2 separate regions of the Homo sapiens genome follow, and region 2 is linked to region 1. The links come from fine-mapping of genetic effects on gene expression. A gene starts in region 1. The other region holds a variant in brackets. All regions are shown on one strand. Distances are from middle to middle.

Region 1 (8,344 bases):
ATCTTTCTGTTCCTTCATTCCCAGCTTTGCCTTTTGCACTTGCTGTCTGTTTAATCTGCCTGGACTACTCTGCTCCCTCATCCACAGCAGATTTTGTTTCTCAACCTTCAGGTCTCTGCTTAAGCATTGTCTCCTTAGAGAAACCTTGACCGTCTACCAATCTAAAGGAATTTCCTCCTGGTCTCACTTTCTATCACATTGTCCTGTTTTATTTCCTTTATAATACTTAGGGCATTCTTCCTCCTGTGAGCTCCCTACCCCCATCTCCCTCATGCCCCCTAATAAAGGAGCTCTCATATTCTTGCATGGTCCTGTCCCTGTGGCTACACTTAGTTGGCCTAGGACGGGCCTGACTCAGCCATACCAGAGCCCTTCTTGGGATTTTTAGAACCAGAATTGAGAAACAGTCAATTCTTCGCTAATGAAAGCCATTGTCTGACGTAAAATTCAGCAACTATTGGTGGTCATGTTTCCCGTTGTGTGGAGGAAATGAGTCCACAAAGGCAAATGATACCCACATGGTGAAGGGGAGAAGAGTAAGATATTTTTGAAAGTATTTTTTATATTCTGGTTATTTCTAAGGTCTAAATTATATTCTGGATGCTTGCAGAGTTAGTAAGGATACTTTTTGCATCTATAGTTTCTTTGAAAATTTTTTAAAAATCAGGCCAGAAAGACAGAGTGAAAAAAATGAAATATTAAAAAAAAGCTCTTGGATTGATTAATCTAACTTGTTCTTCCTTGTGTCGAACACTGTGCTCACATGTAGATGGTTAATATGTGCGGGATGAACGTGCCACCTGTAGAATGAGAGGTTACATGCTTTCCACTGAAAGCATGCCTTAATACTGAGTGAGAAAGTGGAAGTCAAAGTTGTAGAGACTGCAGTGATTAACTATGAGAAGAGCCACTTGGGCTTTTACATTAATATATCATGAAGCACTCAGTCCTTTTGCAGCTATAAAAAGCCCTTTTTAGAGGCAAGACTGAGGCAAGATACTAAATGTTTTACAATGACTGTCCTCTGACAGGTGGAGACCTTTATTATTATTAATGTCCATTTCAACATTTATTGAAATCAATCCAATGAAACACATTCTAATGAAATATAATTACGCAAACAATATGTGCTTGGAACTGTAGGGGATATATAGATGATTAAGGCAGGAACTCAGTCACTAAATTTATTAAGGGGCAGATTTTTTTAATCGCATAAAATAAATGATTAAAATACAAGGTAGCTATAATGAGTTACAAATAAAGTGCAATGGTGCCAGGGCTGGGGTAGAGGTTCATGATAAAGAAAGGTCATATCTAGTTGCAAGAACTGGGAAAGACTTCATGACCAAATTAAGCACTTGGGGGATGGGTAGGACTGTAAAGGTCAGAGATGGTATGAGGAAGCATCTTAGCCCTTAAGAACCTTAAGAACACACAAAAGGAGACACTTAAAACTAAATATTAGATGCTGCTGTTCCTAGCATTAGCCATGCTCTCCTATAAGGGGCCCTTAGTGGCTATCTCTTTCTCAGCTCCCCATCCTGATACCATTTTACAGGGTCAGCTTACCTCCTACCACCATATTCCTCCAACCTAGTGTCTAGGCCTCTAACTCTCACCCTGGCTTCAAAGAGAAAAGCAGATCTTGCTCTTCCCTAGTCCAAGGTTAGCTTCTTTTCCTGCCCCCAGGAAAAGACTGACAGTCAGGACTGACATTCAGGATACTCAGTTGACAGTGAGGACACTCAATTCCTTCAGGGAGAGTTCACCTTCACCCAGAGTGAAGCCAGCCAAAACAGTGTATAAAAGTACATTTTTAAAAGTCTGAGGCCAGGTATGTGGCTCATGCCTGTAATCCCAGCACTTTGGGAGGTTGAGACAGGAGGATCACTTGAACCCAGGAGTTAAAGACCAGCCTGGGCAACAGAGCGAGACTCCGTCTCTCAAAAAAAAAAAAAAAAAAAAAACTTAGCTGGGTGTAGTGGCACATGCCTGTAGTCCCAGCTACTCAGGAGGCTGGGGAGGAGAATTGTTTGAGCCCAGGAGTTCAAGGTTGTAGTAAGCTGTGATCGCATCACTGCACTCCAGCCTGGGTGACATAGCCAGACCCTGTCTCAAAATAAAAACACAAAAAGACAAACAAAAAAGGTCTGAGACCTTCAGTGTTCCAGAATAGTGTGTATAATTGGTACAGGAGGTGGGGAAGGGGGACCCGATACAGTGTAGGGGCAAGCTGAGTCCCATGCCTCTTCACAACTTTTCCTCCAGTGTGGTAGTTTGATTTCTCAAGATCCATGAGTAAATATGTGCACAAAAGACACATCCCTCAAAAAATACAAAATACATTGTCTAAGGAAGAATCTTTTAAATCCATATTCAGAAAATGATGTAATTCTTTAAGGATGCAAATGAGCAGTTCTGCTAGAGAGTTACCCAATTTTCATCACTGAATGGAAACAAATAATATGCCATTAATGAAAGCCTACATTTGTTTTGTGCTTTGCACTTTGCAAAGAAAAAATTCTAGGCTCCAAGAACACATTAGTAAATGACAATGCAGGATTCAAACCCAGTATAGTAAAATACTCAATACTTATATAGTATGCTAGGTAAAAACAATTTAATTTTACACAGTGGTGAAGTCACTAATTTTCTCCAAGGAAAATTATATAAGAGAAAGCCCTTTGGAGGCTTTTTCACAAGATGATATCATCATCATCATCATTGGTATATGGATCTTTTTGAGATAAACATGTTTATTCATTCATTAATTTAACAAGTGTTTACTGTGCATCATTATCAAGGCATGACACTAGGTTTTACAGAAGATGCAAATATGACTTCCTATAACAACTTAGGATCTAGCAAGGTAGAGGAAATAAAAGATGAAAGGAATTTGATAAATATCACAGGAAAGGTGGGAAAAAAAGTGTTAAAAAGTTCACATTAAAACTGCAAAGTTCATATTCCCTTTGGGAAGTGGGGAGCTTTAGTGGAAATGGTAACAATTGGAAAACCAAAAATTAAAAATAGACAAGGGGGGTAAGATAAAATGATAGATTAGTATCAAGATACCAGGACTCCTGAAGCAGGACATATTGCTACCTTAAGATTATTAACAAACTAGTTCCCATGGATTTAGATCCTTTCTGTAATCATAGCTAGAAACTGGTGTTCTTATAGGTAGTATCGCAGAAGGCTGTACTGTACTCAATACTTCCTGTATATGGATAGGAAAGGTTTGGATGGTCATCTGTCACAAGAGTAACAATGTTTAGGAGTAGCTTGGACACTGGTCATTGATTCACTTTTATTGGTGCTTGTAATGTCAGTATGTTGACATCATTGTGCAGCCCTTATCAGATTGTGAACACCAAGAGTACCCCAACTGCTGGCCCGCGAGCTGTTTACAAATATCATACCGGCTTTTATCGATGATAGTGGCCTTTAAAATCTGGAGTTCAGAGTGGCACAAAATGTGTTTCTAATGCAAACGACTCTCCTTCCCACGTGCACCTCTTTGATCAAGTTTGTGGCTGAAATCAGACTCTAGTTAGATCGCTGTAAAAATAAAAATAAATTTTCCCCAAATGATTGAAACGAATTTCACCCTAGACTACGAGTCCCATCATGCAACGCTCCCATATTCCCACCGTGTGGGGCGGAGTCGTAGAAGGGGCGGCAGCGGCGGCGGCCTGTGCATTCTGGGTATTGTAGTCTGGGGCCCGGCCACCGCTGGGGCTGGTTCCACGTGGTGCATTTGGCGGCAGCTTTGGGCAGTGGCTCCCCTGCTCCCTCCACACGGTCCTCAGGGTGCCAGCGCCAGCAGGGGCGGCCAGCCACCGCGGGAGCGGGCTAGAGTGTGGCCCGGAGGCAGCCCGAGGCTTCGCGACGTTTTTGCGACAGCCGCGGCCGTGTTCCGCGAGTGCCCTCCCTCCTCCTCTCTTTGAGGAGGTACCGGCTGTTGTGCGGCTCTGCCCTTCTGTTTGAGTGTATGGGAGAGTGAGTGAGTGAGTGAGTGTGAGCGTGTGTGTGAGAGCGTGAGGCGTGAGTGCGCGTGTGAGAGGACGAGAGCCCGCCTGGCCGCCCCGCCGCTCCCGCCGCAGCAGGAGCAGAACGCGCGGCCGGAGAGAGCGGCGGAGCCGGCGCCCAGGGAGCCCGCGGGGACAAGGGCAGAGACACCGCTCCCCACCCCCAGCCCTCGTCCCTCGGCTCTCCTTCGCCGGGGGATCCTCCCCGTTCCTCCACCCCCGGCCGGCCTCTGCCCCGCCGTCCCCCTGGATGTCCCTGGCGCTTTCGCGGGGCCTCCTCCTGCTCTTGCCGCATCAGTCGGGCTGGTGCTGCGGCCGGCGGGCGTAGAGCGGGCGGGTTCCCGGGGGCTGCGGCTGCCCGTGCTTCCCCGGTCCCCACCCCTGCCCCCCGGCCCCCCGACCCAGCTCTCCGGCCTCAGAGGCTGTGACAATGGACTATGACTTTAAAGTGAAGCTGAGCAGCGAGCGGGAGCGGGTCGAGGACCTGTTTGAATACGAGGGCTGCAAAGTTGGCCGAGGCACTTATGGTCACGTCTACAAAGCCAAGAGGAAAGATGGGTGAGTGTGTGTGTCTGGGCCGGTGTCCGCGCTGGGCGGCGCTCCCGCAGGCCGAGGCAGGTAGCCCGGAGGGAGAGCGGGCCGCCGGGGTGCCGGGCTCTGACTTCCTCGACGCCGGCCTCTGGCTCCGCCAGCCAGGTTTGGGGAGGAAGTGGTGTACGAGGGATCCAAACCCACGAGAAATCCTGCGTGCCGCGTCTGTGTTCTGCTCTGGTGGTAAGAGGCAAGATGAGCCTCTGCACCGTGGGCTGTATACTTTTCAAGGATTTCAAAGCTGATTCATGAAAAAATTCGTTCTAAAACGCCGGGTTAAATGTTTTTTGTTTTTTTTTTTCCTTGGTCGATTTATTATGGTAACCTTCTGGGGATTTCCTCACCCGCCTCTGGAGTGTCATCCATCGGTCTAGAAGGAAGGCTGTGATCCTTTCCCCCACCAGTTTGTGATCGATTTTTTATCAAATTTGTATTTTATTTGAGGAAAGGAAGGCAGCGAGTGAATGTGGTTCTGGAGAGAGTTCCCCATAGTGATCATCTGCAACATAAATGTTGCAATTGCTATTTAGATATTATTAGCTGTGAATTTTTACATAGAACAATGGGGGTTTGGTGCAGGGTGGGTGGTGGGGAAGAAGGCAAGTGACATAGGGACTATCTCGTTCAGGCGGTTTCCCCCAAATTTAGCGGCTGGCAGTGAACTTTAAATAATCCCTTTGCTTTAAATATTCTTCCCTAGTAACAACTTAATTAAACCTATGACTGGTAATGCTTCCAATTTAGTTTCTTAACAGGCAAGTGAATTGTTCATTTTTTCTCTTTGTCAGTAGATGAATGTCTTGTAATATTGACAAAAGAGAAGGCAATTCTTAGTTGGGGGGAAAATATATTTTATTAACTCCATGTTTTCTTGTAAAATGGATGTTGTCTCTGTTGCCTTTGACAGAATAGAAAATTATTGAAAAGTCAAAGCTTATTATATAATCCTTGGATTTTATTAGAAACGAAGTAGCTTTACTTGAGCATCCCAGTTTAGTCACCTGCTGTATGATGTTTAATCACTTAAAATTTCCAATTAGGTAGGAGAGTATGTTCAGACTACATTAGCACGAAAAAAAAATTCATAAAGCTGAAGTTCCCTACTGTGGGGTAGGGGGGCGCATATTTACAAATACTTTAGTATTCTGGATGTTGGAAAGGAAAGTGTATATTTATTGGACATTTTTCTTAGATTTACTGAAATGTCTTTCTAAAAGTATTTACAATGGACTCTACGAGGAAGATAGGAGTTCTAATTAATTTAGAATGTGTATTTTAGTGCTTTTATGCAACAGTAAAGTGGAACAGATCGGCAGAAGGTAGGGATTTGGATTTGAAAACTTGATATTCTGGGCGCCGCACGTATTTAAAAGTACTTTTTAGCGGAATGGATAGTCTGGTGACACTGGAGAAATCAGCGTCTGGAGATATTGCTGACTCTGTTGTTGTCTAATTAGACTTATTGTTGAAGTTTTACTCTGTAATGACATATATTTTTAAAATTATGTTTGTTAACTCACCATACAATATTTCTCAAAAGCTTTAAACCATCTCCCCTTCCCCCAGTATTATGTAATTTTGGGCATATTCATAAAATCCCCAATCCCATGAGATTAGACATTACAGTACATTTGACCAAACTGACATGTTATATAAAATTCTAGCGCCTTTGCATTATTTTTAATCTGTGTGAGAGAAGCCGGTTCTGTTTTCATAAATTACCAATTTAAGCTAATAAAATATGCATATTTGTTTTAACGTTGTACATTTTATTAGAAAACTAATACTGTGTATTGGCAGGGGGTACTTAAGCACATTTTATATCTCTATGGTCAGGTTTTAATTTAGGCCGTTAAGAATAATTTGAAAGAATAATTTCAATATCTTTGAATTTAAAGATAGTTGAAGGTATAATGTATGGACATTCTTAGTCATCTGTGACAGCTGAAAAGTAACATTGCATTTTGGAAAAAAGAACTTATTATTTGTAATCCTTGGAGTTTGTTTTCCATCAGTCTTTAATGATTCTCTTTATGTGATGAACTTCTATTTTTAATGGATCAAATGTCAAGAGAGTTTTAAAATTACTATCTTTTAGAGATAGTTTTAGAGAGTTTTAAAATTACAGGGATTTTTTTCGGTTTGACTTCTCTTTGTAACCTCACTCTGGTAAAGTATCGCATAGTATTTATGAGGTTCTTTTGATCTTATGTCAGTGAAATGTAATTTAATGCATTTTAGTCCTGGTAAAATAAAATTTGTGGCTGTTTAATCTTTCATAATAAGATGATGATCAAATAATTTGTTTCTAGTATTGATTTACTTTCAAATTACATTATATATTCTGCAGCTGAGATTTGTTCTCTAGGAACTCAGACAGTAACACCTTTAAGGAGAACCTGAGATTTTCTATAAAAGGAAGTAACGCAAATAAGCTTGGTTTAGACATATTTGACTATTGAAATGAATGTATGTAAACGTTGTATCCTTTCAGTTGCCCAGTGAGCATAGAACATGAATAATTGGTAAAATAATTTAGACCAGAGAAGTTAGCTGCTTAAATTATTAAGTTTTAGGAAATAAAATAGCTTCAAAGATTCATTTCTTTGACTTACTTGAGGCATGATTGCATAGTAGGGAAAAGGGACCTTTTATAACTTTGTTAATTTCACATTATAATAGAGTTTAAAGAAATGCACAATAAATCTTGGGATTAATTTGTTCTCACTCGTGTCGCCGTAAATGAGATAGTGTCCTTTGTGTCTGAACACTTAAAGAGTACTCAGTGGGAAGCAGGGGGGTTCATTTTCTTTCTGAGTTGATTGTATCTCCTCTTTGCAGAGTTTAGGCAACCAAACTAATTTTGTTTTAAAGAGTAAGAGAGCGTTAGAAGACAGAAAACAATTTGTGTTTTTAAATTCTAGACTTCAATATTTGCACTGAATGTTTGGATAATTTAAAATATCAATTTGGGATAAGAGGTTTTTCTTCAAAAAAGAAAAACAAAAGGCATTTTCTTAGCAGGGTTTTTAATCTGTTATAATCTATGTTCCAAAGAATAGATAATTATGAGTGAGGAATGAGTGTGTGTTTGTGTGTGTGTGTGTGTGTGTGTGTGTGAGAGAGAGAGAGATACTGCCAACTTTCTTTGGGGCACATTTGTTGAGAGCCCAGAGATTAGTAAGTAGGCAGTGATAATGGCAATAATAGCTAAATTACTGAGTAATTAAGTTTCAGGTCCTGGGCAAAGCACTTTACATTCATCATCTAGTTAGTCCTCACAAGAAGTATATCAAGTCAATTCTGTTATTTTTCAGTTTTCCAGTTGAGGAAACTGAGGCTTAGAAAGGTTAAGCAAATTTACCCATGAGTACACAGCTAATTAAATGTCAGCTAAGATTAGAGGATTAGGCGCAGGTTTTTCACTCCAGAGCCCATGCTCTTAACCATTATGCTTCCTATAATTAATATATTGAATAAGTAAAAAAATAGTTATGGAGTTTGATTTCTAGTGGGTTATTCAAAAACATAAATACCTTGTAGAACTATTAATATTTGCTTCAATAAACTGGTGTACTTTCTGGGTATATTGCTGAAGCACCCTTTTTTTCAAGTGCTATAAAACTGTTTATGTAGATATATGGGTGTGTCTGTACGTATATACACAAACATACTTGTGTATCTAGAGGGGTGTGTGTGTGTGTGTGTGTGTAGGACTAAAC
Region 2 (8,344 bases), 220 kb after region 1:
CAGAGAATTAACCCAGGAACAGAACACCAACTACTGTATGTTTTTACTTTTAAATGGGGGCTAAACACTGGGTACTGCTGGACATAAAGATGGCAACAAATGGCTCTTTAAACTGCTTTTTCAGCTCAAACATGCTAAACATTATTCCAAATAAGTAAAGACAGAATGATCATCCACAGAATCATTTAAAATGGCTGTTTAATATTCTTTTACATAGATATAATACATTTTACCAACTATCTAGGAAGCTAGGATTCTTTTTGCGACCATAAGCAACATTGCGGTGAATAATCTCATGCATGTATGTTTGTGCGCATGCCCCTTGTTTCCTAGGAGCAAACTGCTGGAAGCGGAATTATATGAAGAGTATGTACCTTTTGAAGGCTCTTGATACATATTACCAAATTTTTCCACAAATGTACTGATCTAGGGTCCCTTTAATCTGAGAATCGGCATCATTTCCTTCACACCGAAGTTGGCACTGGTTACAATTCTTTTTATTTTGTTTTCCAACCCACTATATGAAAAAAATACATTCTTATTATTTTCTTCCATGTTTGATTACTAATTAGAGTTTTCATTTTTGGCATTTCTTGGCCATCTTTCTTTTCTTTTCTTTTTCTTTTTTCTTTTCCATTTTTTTGAGACAAGGTCTCACTCTGTTGCCCAGGCTGAAATGCAGTGGCACAATCATGGCTTACTGCAGCCTTGACCTCCTGGGATCAAGTGATCCTCCTGCCTCAGCCTCCCAAGTAGCTGGGACTACAGACATGTGCCATCATGCCTGGCTAATTTTTTACATTTGTAGAGTAAAAAAATTATTTAACTTTTTTTTTTTTTACTTTTTGTTGCCCGGCTGGTCTCAAACTCTTGGCTTCAAGTGATCCTCCCACCTTGGCCTCCCAAAGTGCTGGGATTCCAGGCATAAGTCGCTGTGTCCAGCCTGTATTTCTTATTTTATTAAATGCTTCTTTATTACTACGCTTAGCCGTTTTCCCATTAGGGTATTTCTCATTCTTCATTGATCTGTATGAGCATTCTATATCGTAAGCTCTGCAAACCTCCACCCAGGGAATACTCCCTTGCATGTGGGTGAGAAATCACTGTGTGGATGCTCCGGTGGAGGTGCTGCTGAAGTCAGGTTAACTCAACGGGGCCTTTAAGGAAGAGAGGTCACTCACCCAGTGGAGGGTGGGGCACAGGAGCTCCTGGTGTTTATTGTCCAAGCTGGTATTAACCAAGAGGATTGAGCTTCGGGGGACAGAAGACACGATGTTTGGCCTTGGCCTGATGCTGGGTCCCGATGATGTGAAGTGGGAAGTACTGACCTGAGTCGGCTACGCAGTGGCCCTGGGACCAGTAGCATCAGCACCACTCAGAAACCTGTTCAGCAATGCAGATTCTCAGGCCGCAGCACAGGAAACTTGTGAGCACACTTTTTTTTTATTATCATGGTAAAATATACATAACATGACTAGGCGCAGTGGCTCACGCCTGTAATCCCAGCACTTTGGGAGGCCGAGGCGGGCCGATCACCTGAGGTCAGGAGTTCGAGATCAGCCTGGCCAACATGGTGAAACCCTGTTTCTACTAAAAATACAAAATTAGCCGGGCATGGTGGCGCATTCCTATACTCAGCTACTTGGGAACCTGAGGCATGAGAATCGCTTCAACTTAGGAGGTGGAGGTGGCAGTGAGCCGAGATTGCACCAGCCTGGGCAATAAGAATGAAACTCTGTCTCAAAAAAAAAAAAAAAAAAAAATATATATATATATATATATATACAAGTATATATATACACACATATATTTTTATACGTATATATTTATATACACATGTATACATGCATATGTATATATTTATATACACATGTATACATGCATATGTATATATTTATATACACATGTATACATGCATATGTATATATTTATATACACATGTATACATGCATATGTATATATTTATATACACATGTATACATGCATATGTATATATTTATATACACATGTATACATGCATATGTATATATTTATGTACATATGTATACATGCATATGTATATATATATACATGTATATATGTATATCTCTGTGTATATATATACATGTATATATATCTCTGTGTATATATATACATGTATATATCTATGTGTATATATACATGTATATATATCTATGTGTATATATATACACATGTATATATATATCTATGTGTGTGTGTATATATATATATCTATGTGTGTGTATATATATATATCTTCCTATGTTACCCATTTTTAAGTGTTCAGTTTAGTGGCATTAAGTACATTCACACTGTTGTGCAACCATCACCACCATCATCAATCCACAGAATTCTTTTCGTCCTCCAGACTGAAATTCTGAATCCATGAAACAGCAATCCTCCACTCTCCCTAACCCCTCCAGCTCCTGACCACTGTCATTCTACTTTCTGTTGCTATGGATTTGCCTACTTAATTCCATCATCTAAGCGGAATTGAACAAAAGGTGTCTTTTGCATCTGGTTATTTCACTTAGCACAGTATCTTCAAGGTTAGTGTGTGTCAGAATTTCCTTCCCAGCTACTCAGGAGGCTAAGGTGGAGGATCGCCTGAGCCTTGGAAGTTGAGATTGCAGTGAGCCGTGATCTCACCACTGCACTCCAGCCTGGGTGACAAAGTAAGGCCCTGTCTCACACACATACACAAAAAAAAAGGCAGAAGAAGAAGAAGGAGGAGAAGGAGAAGGAGAAGAAGAAGAAGAAGAAGAAGAAGAAGAAGGAGGAGGAGGAGGAGGAGGAGGAGGAGGAGGAATTATTTCCTATAATATTCCATTGTATGCATATACCACATTTTGTCTTTTTGTTCATCTGTTCATGGCACACACTACAATTTGGCATGCAATGTGCACAGGATTTGTCAGGAATGTGGTTAAAATGCAAATTTTAATCAATTGTTCTGAGATGGAGTCTGAGACTCTACAGGAAACCTCTGGGCCACTTGCCCTGCAAGTCAGGCCAATTCTTCATCATTGCGTCAAATTCCACTCATAAAAATAAGCCACAGTACCAAGGGTTGATTTCAGTAAGCAAGTCCCACAAACTTTCTGGGAAGCTTTAAGAAAATGAAAATGCTCTCTTCTCACTTTTGCAGCTGCTGTACCCTCCTCCTACCTCTGCTGACTGCAGCAGGTCAGAGTGGGTCTGAGGGCCTCTCTGGCACGGCTGGCCTGCCCCACTGGCCCAGTTCCCGACTCCCTGAAGGCTGCTCACCTGCTTCCCCATGCCTCTGGCACTGTTTCTATCTGTCACATATATTCGACTTCTCTTACTCGAAATGAGCACCCTGAGGCTAAAAGCCTGTATTCTGCATTCATTCATTCAACAAATATTTATTGAGTGTGACTGTGTGTGAAGCACTGTTCTTTCTAGGCACAGGGGATACAGCAGAGAACAAAAGAGGCAAAAATCCCTGCCTTTGTGAGCTTTCGTGCTGGTGGAGACATCGATCATATGATAAATGAGCAAATATTAGCTAGAGATACATTTAAGCACGAAGAATAAAGCAGGGAGACAGCAAGGAATTTGGGTGATGCTGATACTTTACAGTGGTAAGCCAGGGCCGGCTTCACTGAGGAGGTGACAGTAGGGCGAAGACAAGAGGGAAGGGAGGCAGCCAGCTTTGCAGGAATCCGGAGGCTCACTCCAGCTGGAGAGAACGGCACAGGCAGAGGTCCTGAGACAGCGGGCTGCCTGGGCATGCAAGGCATAGCAAGGAGGCAGCGTGTGGCAGATGGAGTGAGAGAGACAGAGAAGGGAAGAGGAAGACAAAAAGGCAGCAGGGTGGGTCAAGAAGGATGCTTAGACCAGCAGTGTCCAGTGGAAAAAGAATGGGAGGTTGGGCGCGGTAGCTCACGCCGGTAATCCCAGCACTTTGGGAGGCTGAGGTGGGCAGACTGCCTGAGCTCAGGAGTTCGAGATCAGCCTGGGCAACATGGTGAAACCCCATCCTTACTAAAATACAAAAAAATTAGCTGGGTGTGGTGGTAGGCGCCTGAAGTCCAAGCTACTCAGGAGGCTGAGGCAGGAGAATGGCTTTAACCCAGGAGGCGGAGGTTGCAGTGAGCCAAAATCGCACCATTGTACTCCAGCCTGGGCAACAGAGCAAGACTCTGTGAAAAAAAAAAAAAAAAATAGAATGGGAGCCACATGAGTCATTTTCAATTTTCTAGTAGCTGTACTAAAAAAAAAACCCAAACAAGGAAACAATGTGTTTTACTTGACCCAATGTATCTACAATATTATTATTTCAACATGTAGTTGATAATAAAAACTAATGGATGAGCTTTTTTGCATTCTTCTTTCTTTTGTGTTAAGTCTTCAAAACCCAGTGTGTATTTGACACTCACAGCACATCTCGGTTTTGACCAGCCACATTTCAAATGCTCAATAACCATATGTGACCAGTGGCTCCGGGAGTGGGCAGCAGAGCCTAGACCGCATGAAGACCTTGGCTTTCCCTCTGAGGATGTTTTAGAATGTAGGTTTTATTATTATTCAGGTATGGCAAGGCCAACAGATCAGGAGCGGACTGCCATTGAAAAGTGAGCTGGGAGCGCTCCACACCGTAGGGGCCCCCTGGGGAAGCAAGGGGGGGAGGGAGTGGAGGGAAACATGGGCGGGAGCGTTGATTCTGATTTTCATGGGAAAGAACAGGCAAGGCAGGGTAAGCA[G/A]GTTTAGGATTGGCTGGTCTGAGTAATTTCTGCAGGCCCTGGGCATGGGACAGTCCCTACTTGTCTGGTACCTGGCCCTGGGGTGATTAGGGCAAGGGGCCAGGGGCCAGGAGCATAGTGGTGTAGCGGGGTGTGAGCTCTGGCTTAATTGCTTTGCATATGAAAGGTGCTTGCACTCAGTCATTTGCTCTCTCTAGGACCTGGCTAAATGGGGAGAGGCAGCCTCTCTAAGGTCAGCAGAGCCTCAAGAGCCTCAAGAGGCCAAAGCATCAGAAACCCATGGTTAATGGAGAGGGTTCAGGAGCTGCAGGGCTGGGCTTAGGAGGGCTGGGCTCAGGAGGGCTGGGCTCAGGAAGGCCGTGATCCCGCTGCTGTGTCTGCCGGGCTCTGGCTTCTCCTGGAAGAGAGGTGGGATGGGGCAAGGGGGCAAGGATGGGAACAAGGCTGTGGCCACACCCCAGGGAGGGGGCAGGGCTTGGGTGAGGCTGAGGCTTCGGGGGTGGAAGGAGGTGGTCCCTGCTAGACAGACTGGCAGACAAAGCAACTACGGCTGATTCCTCACGTAAGCACCTGGATGCTGAACTGAATGACAGCAGGCGCTGACTTTAGAGGAAGAGTGGGATAGCACATTTGCTGAAATACTTAGGTATCCAATAGAATTCCAGGGGCGTTTAGACAGTGAAGTAATGCTGAGAGAGACAGAGCTATTCTCCATTGGCTGCTCACCACATTGACCGGTCCTTCTGCCAGGCCTGGTTAGGTCACTGTATTTCCTGTGCAGGAGCACTGGGTCACCGCGTCCCTGCTGACCTCGGCAGGGTCAGAAGCGGGGTCCGCAGGGCGGCGGTCAGGGGCGGGGACTGTCCTCAGGGTAGGTTAGAACCTAGGGAGGGCAGCGGGCAGGCTGGGCTGAGCCCTCTTCCGTCACACAGGAAGCTGCAGGGCTTTCCTGCGGCATTCATGCTTTTTTATTCAAAGTCAGAGCTAGGGAGCTATTTGTCACTCTGCTTCCGGAGGCAACTTTATTCAGAAATCAACCGCTGCCTGGCTCCAGGGCCAGTGTCAGGAGCCAGCGGGGGTTTGTTCTGGCCAACAGCCCTCTCCTCCATCAGAGTCATCCCCACATCCAGGCGGGAGTTGCTAGAATTATCTGTTCCTGTTTCCTTCAGAGTCTGCACAGAATGCTTTGGATTCCCGAGATCTGGCTTCCTCTGTGTGTTGTCACTGACTCCAGCCCAGCTGCTCGCAGCACGGCCTGGGGAGACAATTCCCCTTTGCATTCAAAGACCAGGTAAAACAAGCCATCCATAGAGCTCACCAAGGCATGAAGTTAAACAGAAGTACGGAGTCAAGTAGAAACCACCACTTTCTGAGAATGCAGGTGGTACGGGATGGGGACACTTCACTGGCTGATCTGTTAGTGCCTGTGCCAGAAATCACAGGCTTCAGGGAGGGGCCCCTCAGAGAAGCCCCTTGGGAAGTTATACTCTCATTCCAAAGCTTTTCCCACACTCAGAGCACACTTGGAACTCCCTTCTCTTGGCAAAGGCCTTTAGAGTCCATTTAAGCTACATCGGAAACCCCATGTCATTTTTTAGAAAAAATTTTTTTATGTATAATCTACTAGATTTGACCCTGAATTTTTTTTTCTATTTTCTAAGCCCATTAAAACACACACACACACTCACACACACACTCACCCACACTCTCACACACTCACTCACACACACACACTCACACACTCACACACACACAGACACTCGACCCATGATGGCATGAAAGCAATGACTCCAAGGCCATTCATCCTGAAATGAGGGCATCATTCCCATTGGATATGTAATCTTTTATTGAAAGATTATTCCATACTTATATATAGAAAAGTGCACCAGCCGTAAGTGTACAGGTTGAAGAATATTTAGGAACTGAACACCCTGGTGCACACAGCACCCGGATGGAGACACAGAACAATAGTAATGCCTGGATGCCCTCACGGATTACCCTGGATCACTCACCTTCAAGTATGTGTGAAGTCTTTAGCCCACACCATCCAGAATAATCACCACTCTGACCAAGGTTGGGAAAGGTTGAGGAGCCTGGGGTGCACAGTGTAAGGAGGCCTCCCCTCTCAAGGTCAAGCACGTCTAGCCCCTTACATTTTGTTCTAGGTGCTTCACAGGCCTCACCCATAACTGACTTCTAGCAGCACAAAACAGTTCTGCCTGTTTTTGAGCTCCGTATAAATGGAATCTTCCAACATGCACTTTTTTGGGTCTGACATCTTTTGCTCAACATTATGGCTGAGATTCATGTTTTTGCTTGGAGTTGTAGTTTCTTCAGTCTTGTTGCTGTACAGCAGGTTCTCAAACTTTAGCCCGCATCAAAGTCACCTGCAGGGCTGGCTAAAACACAAGATTGCTGGCCCCACCCCCAGAGTTTCTGACCCAGGAGGTCTGAGATAAAATTCCAGAGTATGCTAACAGATTGTCCTGCGATACTGATGCCGCACTTTATTATTTATTTATTTATTTATTTATTTGAGATAGAGTCTCACTCTGTCGCCCAGGCTGGAGTGCAGCAGCACAATCTCAGCTCACTGCACGCTCCGCCTCCTGGGTTCACGCCATTCTCCTGCCTCAGCCTCCCAAGTAGCTGGGACTACAGGCACCCGCCACCATGCCCAGCTAATTTTTTTGTATTTTTAGTAGCGATGGGGTTTCACTATGTTAGCCAGGATGGTCTTGATCTCCTGACCTCGTGATCTGCCCGCCTCAGCCTCCCAAAGTGCTGGGATGACAGGAGTGAGCCACTGCGCCTGGCCCGCACTTTATTTTTTAAGACAGGGTCTCGCTCTGTTGCTCAGGTTGGAGTGTAGTGGTGCAATCATGATTCATTGCAGTCTTGACCTCCCAGACTCAAACAATCCTCCCACCTCAGCCTCCTGAGGAGCTGGGACTATCGGTGTGTACCACCACTCCAGGCTAATTTTTGTATTATTTGTAGAGACGGGGTTTCACCATGTTGCCTAGGCTGGCTGATGCCACACTTTTGAGAACCATAGATGAATAGTATTCCATTGTGAGAATATCCCACCTTTTACTGGCTTATTCAAATCTTGATGGACAAATAGGTTTCCAGGTTTGGACAATTACAAATCGTGCATCTCCAAACAATTTTGCACATGTCTTTTGGTGCACAGTGCATGCACTTAAGATAGGAGTGGAACTGCTAAGTCGTAGAATATGCATACAATCGGCTGTAGGTAAACATGCCAACAAGTTTTCCAAAGTGGTTGTATCAACTTACTAGGTTGGCGCAAAAGTAATTGCTCTTTTTGCCACTCATTTTAATACATTCCCATCAGCAATTTATGAGGCTTCCTATTGCTCCATATCCTTGCCAGCACTTATTGTCCATGATTTTTATTTAGACATCCTGGTGAGTGAGTACTAGTATCTCATAATGGCTTTAATCTTTAATTTGCTTTTCCCTCTTCATGGGTCTCCAGAGCTCATCACAGGTCCCCATTGAGCTGTGGACTTCAGCTTCATGTCACAAAAGTCCTCTGTGATGATGATGATGGCGGTGACCTGCTCCACAAAGCCCCCTGGGACCATAGC

Direction of the effects. Positions count from the first base shown, and alleles are read on the strand shown. Sizes are in standard deviations (SD) of each study's normalised expression.
For the expression in left ventricle of the gene that starts at base 3,949 in region 1, allele A in region 2 goes with a lower level than allele G (small effect, 0.22 SD a copy in GTEx).

The links. PIP is the estimated chance that this variant, and not a neighbour inherited with it, causes the effect.
Region 2: its variant is the best candidate, but not a certain one, in a credible set for the expression of CDK8 in left ventricle (GTEx, PIP 0.60).

What each region holds. Positions count from the first base shown.
Region 1 is chr13:26,250,181-26,258,524 of GRCh38, forward strand. It overlaps CDK8 (cyclin dependent kinase 8), which reads left to right and starts at 3,949. Exons shown (of 13, transcript NM_001260.3): 1 at 3,949-4,589. The coding sequence starts at 4,462. RefSeq lists a silencer at 3,954-4,553.
Region 2 is chr13:26,470,752-26,479,095 of GRCh38, forward strand. No RefSeq gene overlaps it. Among named protein-coding and RNA genes, the nearest start is that of WASF3, 83 kb to the right of the region's middle. RefSeq lists an enhancer at 5,461-5,755. The variant G/A (reference allele first, on the strand shown) is at 4,728.